Linked DNA regions of Homo sapiens. The protein of the gene in region 2 purifies or fractionates together with the protein of the main gene of each other region. This does not show direct contact. Each region holds a gene or a part of one and is shown on either strand. Other genes may lie near its edges.

Evidence for each region.
Region 1: the proteins of NUDT21 (region 2) and CRTAP purify together in Homo sapiens (affinity purification with mass spectrometry; one large-scale study listed by BioGRID and IntAct). This does not show direct contact.

What each region holds. Positions count from the first base shown.
Region 1 is NC_000003.12:33,123,858-33,127,593, reverse strand, and holds part of CRTAP (cartilage-associated protein isoform 1 precursor), read right to left. Parts: intron 3,187-3,736; coding exon 3,015-3,186; intron 1-3,014. UniProt on the Homo sapiens protein: Necessary for efficient 3-hydroxylation of fibrillar collagen prolyl residues.
Region 2 is NC_000016.10:56,428,633-56,431,482, forward strand, and holds the end of NUDT21 (cleavage and polyadenylation specificity factor subunit 5), read right to left. Parts: 3' UTR 501-2,850; downstream 1-500. UniProt on the Homo sapiens protein: Component of the cleavage factor Im (CFIm) complex that functions as an activator of the pre-mRNA 3'-end cleavage and polyadenylation processing required for the maturation of pre-mRNA into functional mRNAs.

The DNA.
Region 1 (3,736 bases), on a different chromosome or scaffold from region 2:
TGCCTGTAATCCCAGCTACTCGGGAGGCTGAGGCAGGAGGATTGCCTGAACCTAAGGGGCAGAGGTTGCAGTGAGCCGAGATCGCGCCGTTGCACTCCAGCCTGGGCAACAAGAGGGAAACTCCATGTCAAAAATAAATAAATAAATAAATAAAATAATAACAATAATAATTATACCCACAGCACATATGGAGAGAGCAATAAAGTAAATGTGGCACAATCAATGTTACAAATTGGTGAATCTAGGTAAGGTGTACATGAGAGTTCTTTGTATGATTCTTCCGACTTCTCTACAAGTTTGAAATTATTTAAAAATAAAAACTAAAGAAACTCTAAATATCTATATATCTATACTGTGAGAGGAAAATAAATCTCAGGACCTCAAAATCACTAAGCCAAAGGGAAAAGTCAAGCTGGGAACCATGTAGGACAAATGTGTTTCCCATCCTATTCCTAAATAAGATAGCTACAAAAATTTAAAAAAAAAAAAAAAAAGCCACAAATCTCTCTCATAATTTGCCCACAAGGAAGTTTTTGTGGACAAAGGACAGGCAGAACTCAGTCATCCCTCTGCTCACATGGAACAAATGTATATATGGTTGTTTCCTTTGCTCTGTTGTTTCACTAAGCCAGACTAAAGCATAAGTGACTATTCCTGCAAATTGCATATTCAGTGAAAGGCTAATCAGAAACTCAAAAGAATGCAACCATTTGTCTCTCACCTACCTATGACCTGGAAACCCCCTCCCACTTTGGGTTGTCCTGCCTTTCTGGACTGAAGCAATGTACATCTTACATATATTGATTGATGTCTCATGTCTCCCTAAAATGTATAAAACCAAACTGTGCCCTGAGTACCTTGGGCATATGTTGTTAGGACCTCCTGAGTCTGTGTCACAAGTACATCCTTAACTTGGCAAAATAAACTGTCTAAATTGATTGAGACTTGTCTCAGATACTCTTTGATTTACAATACATATATATCTTAGCTGTATCAAAGATAGATGGAGAGAAACCACAGACATTATGTGCCTCCTGATGAAAGAACTCAGCATCAACTATGAAGCAGTTGACTCCCACCAAAATTTAAAACCCTAAAACAAAATCAAACCGAGCCTGTTCAAGCCTCTACATCCAATTACCGATTTACAAGAAATACAGAAGACAGAGGAACATGGGGATACAGTCAGCAAAACCCAGACCATGGGAATCTCTACGGGACAAAAAATGCAGATTCTTCAATAGCAAAGGGGAAAAGATATGGCGGAAGAACCTATGGATTAAACGAGCCATAAAAGATAACCAACTTGCCACAATATGGATGAAACGAGGACATTATGCCAAGTGAAATGAGTCAGTCACAAAAAGGCAAATACTGTATGACTCCACTTACGTGATGTATCTAGAGTAGTCAAATTCACAAAGACAGAAAGTAGAAAGGTTGTTGCCAGTGGCTGGGGGGAAGGGGATATGGGGAGTTATCGCATACAGAGTTTCAATTTGGGGAAACATAAAAAGTTCTAGAGATGGATGGTGCTGATGGTTGCACAATCATGTGAATGTAGTCAATGCCACTGGAGTGTACATTGAACAATGGCTAAAATAATAAAGTTCATATTAACGTATATTTTACCACAATAAAAATTTTCAAGAGATAACCCATTGCAATGGATGGACCTTATTTGGATCCTGATTCAAACAAATGGTAAATTAAAGGCACACACATGTATTTATGACATTTCTGAAATGATTGGGACACTGTTTAGGTATTTAATGATGAGATCAAAGAATGATTGTTAAAATTCTTACAGGGGTAATAGTTTGGTGTTATGTTTAAAAAACAAAGAGTCCTTACCTTCTAAAGGTATATACTGAAATATTACAAATGAAATAATATGGCATTTGGAATCCGCTTCAAAATAACATGAGAGGAAAAGTAGGTGGGAATTAGAGGAAGCTCAAGTAGCCATGAGTTGACAATTGTGAAGTTGGGTCATGGGTACATGGTGGTTTATCTACTCTTCTCTCTGTTTTTTGTGTATGTTTGAAATTTTCCATAACAAGAAGTTTTCTTAAGGCAAAAAAAAAAAAAAAAAAAAAAAACCTACTTTGTAGAAAGAGATTAATGAATAAAAAGTGACTGAAAAAAAAAAACAAAACCGAAAACGCTGGATTCAATAACTTTAAAAGAGCTTCTCTACTGCAGGATTTCTAAGGGCCTTTAACCATTAAAGTGCACAATGATTCTTCAAGTGGGAGATGCAGTCAGTGCTCAGCCCATTCCCAGACTTATTTACAAGTACATAGACATGATACCTTTATCCAAGGTACAGTCCAGATTTTACTTATCTAGTGCTTTCAGGAAGGCACAGTTCTAGGATCAGTGTTCTCAAACCACTTTGGGAAAGAGCTTCCCTTAGCCATTTCCCAGTTTCTGGAGTGATGCTGCCCAGTAAAGCACTTGGGAAATGTCTAGGCACTATAGAGAAATCTGGGCTACCTATGTGTAGAGTTTTACATTTTCTTCCTTTCTTCATTTTTCCTTTCTGTGTTTTCCAAACTTCCTATAATGAGCACACATTGTTTTATAATCAGAAAAGAAAATTTCAAAAAGCTACCTTAGTGATGGCCACTTAAAGGTTCATTCTACCTTTATATGTGTTGGAAAATTGCCATCATCAAAGTTATCTCAGTAATGTGAGTCACTGAGGTGCTCCTGGGCCCATTTTTATTTTTCAAAATGACTGTAGGAAATCTGTAAGCAAGTAGGGCAGACACAGAATTCTACCTTGGCAGGCCTGTGCTTGAACCTTCTCTCAGTGATTTCACTAGAAGCCCCTGCCAAGTCAAAGGTTTATCTATGCAGGTGGTGACTACCCTCAGTTACCCGTTAATAAGTATGCTCAAAAATTCCTCAGAGGCTGCTCCAGGCATCTAGCAGGCATGCAGGCAGAAACCAGACATCTAAGGAAGACTATTCCATGGGAGTAGTGAGCCTATTGACCTACCACCAACCTGCTATGGAAAGGTAGAAATCCTTGAAGTCCTTGATCTCCCTGGAACCCTCGCAGGCTGCGAGACACTCGTAAAAGGCTTTGAAGAAGTCGGGAAGGGCCAGCTCCATGTCTGTGATGGATGTTCTCCAGTTCTCACCGTTGTATGCCCGCACTGCTCGGATGAACAGGCTCTGAAAGGCATGGAGAAGCCAGTGAAGCTCGCTCTTGGGCGTGAAGGGAGACAGTCATGAAATCTCAAAGGGAACCAAGACCACCACCAAGCTAGCTCTCATTAGCTCTGAAGAAGCCACACTGGCCCTTGAAGAAGTCAATCAGTGAGTTACTTTATATCTAGATTTTTCTACTTTGCTTATGATGGGTACATTTCTTATTTAGTTCAATTCAAAAAGTAGCAGGCCCTTGATAATAATCTGAATTAAGGAAAATGGGAAAACTATGACAGAGATCAGATCAGTGGCTGCCAGAAGTCAGGGGTTACAGCAAAAACTTGACTACAAAAGGACAAGAGGAAATTGTTCAGGGGTGATGAAAATATTCTATGTCGTAACTATGATGGCAGTTACAGGACTGGATGTATTTGTCAAAACTTACTGCATTATACACTTAAAATTGATAAATATATTGTATATAAATAGTACCTCAATAAAACTGGTTTTTAAAATGGAACGAAAAGAAAAATGTAAGTTTGAGAGCAGGTATATTAGTCTGTTCTCACATTGC
Region 2 (2,850 bases):
ATATATTCCCGTATTTTGGGTAAACTTTCTATTTAAGATAACATTGAATTACACAGTATTACATATGCAGCAGGTATGGTGTGTGTCATAGAACATTATGAATTCCAGGCAAGTTTGAGAAAAAAAACTAAAGGAGTCAACCCTCCCTTTACAGATGAGGAAACTCGGACTCAGTCCCCAATGATATGGACTACACACAGTTAACACAACTGTGTAGCAACTTCTAACTTGTGGCCTTCATGTTCCAAATCTAGTGACCCTTTCACACCTCAGGAAACTGAAACACTGCTAACACACAATGGGAGGAGGGAGTGTGTGGGGCACAAGGAGAGGGCAACATCAGTGACCCAGGCCATCAGGCCCTTGCTATTATGCTAAGCTGTCTCTTACCTAAAGGCCCTCGGCCACTCACAGTGACGAACCATGCAAGATTTCTACTAGCACAGTAGGATCAGCAGCCACACATACAGGACTACTATCCCAAAACAATCACAGAGTCATTCTCTTTCAAATATTTTTTATTGAAATGACAATAAAATAAAAAAAGAACAGTGATCACTTTAACCAAACTTACTTTACAAATATAAAAATATAACCAAAACTTGTTTCTTTTATACATTTGCCATAAACGTAATACCAGAAAAGTTCTCAAAACCAAACTATAAATGATGCTTGAATACTATGATGTGAACACAATAACCAAAAGTTTAAATTTCTAAATACATGACCTTTCCCTCAACAGAACAGCATAATCAATATATCTTCCCAACTTATCTCTATTTTTACGATATGATCCATTACTAAGATACAAAATACACCTGAACTGGCCTAATCTAGAGTTACCTAGGTTTTAGTAAGTTTTTTTCCACAAAAACAAGCTTAATAACTATAATACAAGCTAATATTAAAATGTGTTTTATGGCTCAAATCAAATTACAGTATTAGGTTTCTCATCACGATTTGAACAAAAGCAAACTGCTTGAAATGAGTCCAGTTTAACCCAAATAATCAGTGATGTATAACAAGTGAAGTAAGTATGGGAAAATCAAATCTTATGCTACAGAAAGCTGACTTATACTACAGTCAACAACCACTAAGCCTTCTTTGGCAATGAAACATACAAAATTGCAAACTCTGATGCAGTCTCAGTGATTGGCATATACTGTTCCAAACACTATGAACTAGTAAAAACATTAAGTTTGAGGATGGAAAAGCTACCCCAAGCATTTCATCTCAAGTGACTGAACAAGTACTGTAAAAATAAAGTCATTAAAAAGCCGAGAACATAAGAGCACAACATTTAAGAAAGGGAATTTTAAGCCGATTGCTTGCTGGCCTGTTGAATTTGAAGTACTTCTACCTCTCACTTCTAATTAAACATGGAAGAAAACAGACTGGCTAATTTGGTCACACTTTGTCCAAATACAGTGTTAACTTAATGGAACCCTTAAATATCCAAAATAATAAGTGAATGCTATTTATAAGACAATAAAAAGTTTTAAAATCTTCCAAATGTGCTGTTAACAGTACAAATTCAAGTGCAGAATTATTACGCCATTTTAAGTATTATCTACTTTTTTAAAAAATCACAGTGGTCTTCATCACATGGCGAAAAAACAAACTTCACTCTTCTCCAAAGGGATAAGTCCATCCTAAATGTAACTACAAACAATTGTATAAACCTTTATAGTTTTTCCCCCTAATCTACTAAACATATTCCAGTGTCATTTAGTAGTTTTACATAGAATCTGCACTATACTTGGATACTCAGGGAAAATAAGATGACATATATTGTAGTTTTAGAACGCAAAAGAGCTTTCATTTTAGACAAATATACAACATAGAAGCCACTAAAAAATATGGGTCTATTAATCAAGAGCCCATTTCAAAATGATAAGAGCATTTAGTATGTAGATCTGGAATGCACAGTTTCTGGAAGTATTAGAACTTAGTGTTAAACAGTGCCCTTATACCCTCTTCTAATACTGTAGACACCTACCAACCAGATTTGATTTCCCCTAATTCTATTATTTCCATCAGAAAACCAAAAACAGATTATTGGGGATCCACCTGTAACTGACCAGAGCAAAAAGTTTTTAAGACTTCCGTTTGTGTGTTGCAACTTTTACATTCAAAACCAGATCTCTTACATTTCAAGGTTAGTAACCCAGCCATCCTGAATCAAAGGTTTTTCTCAACTAGGCCTTAGTGTATGGATGACTGGCTCACGTACTTACTGTATATTGGGAAGAAGTGAAGAAGTGAGAAGTGAAGAATTTCTTGGTCAAAGTTTAAGTTACAAAGAACATGAGTGGCCTCGAATCAGATGACTCTTCAACTCAAACACTCCTTACTGAGAGTACTTTATAAAACACACAACAAAAGTCTACCTCTCTCCACCCTCCACAAATTGCAAAAGTGAACATCTGAAATGTGGCCACTGTAGCTTTTCCCTCAAAAGCAATCATGGAAGGTGAGCTGAATCAATCCATCTTCATATCCACTTCCTCCAATCTAAAGGAATAGCTGAAGGACGCAGCTAATGGATGAGCTTACCAGCAAAATACATTACATGAGAAATATGCTAATGTAGGCTAGAGGGGTAGGACTGTTAGGGGCAGGAGGGAAAAGGACAATTCACAGAACTAGTGGCTTTTTCAAAGGAAACTGGGGCATTTTTGATCATGGAGACTGGTGCTCACCTACCATGAAGGACATGCACAGTTAGTCACTACTTAACCACCATGTGAGGGTTTGACATGACCCCAACTAAAAAAACTTGAGTGTTTATTAATTGCTCAGCTACACTTGGCCTGATTTCCTCAAGTATCATATACCTTTGACATCACC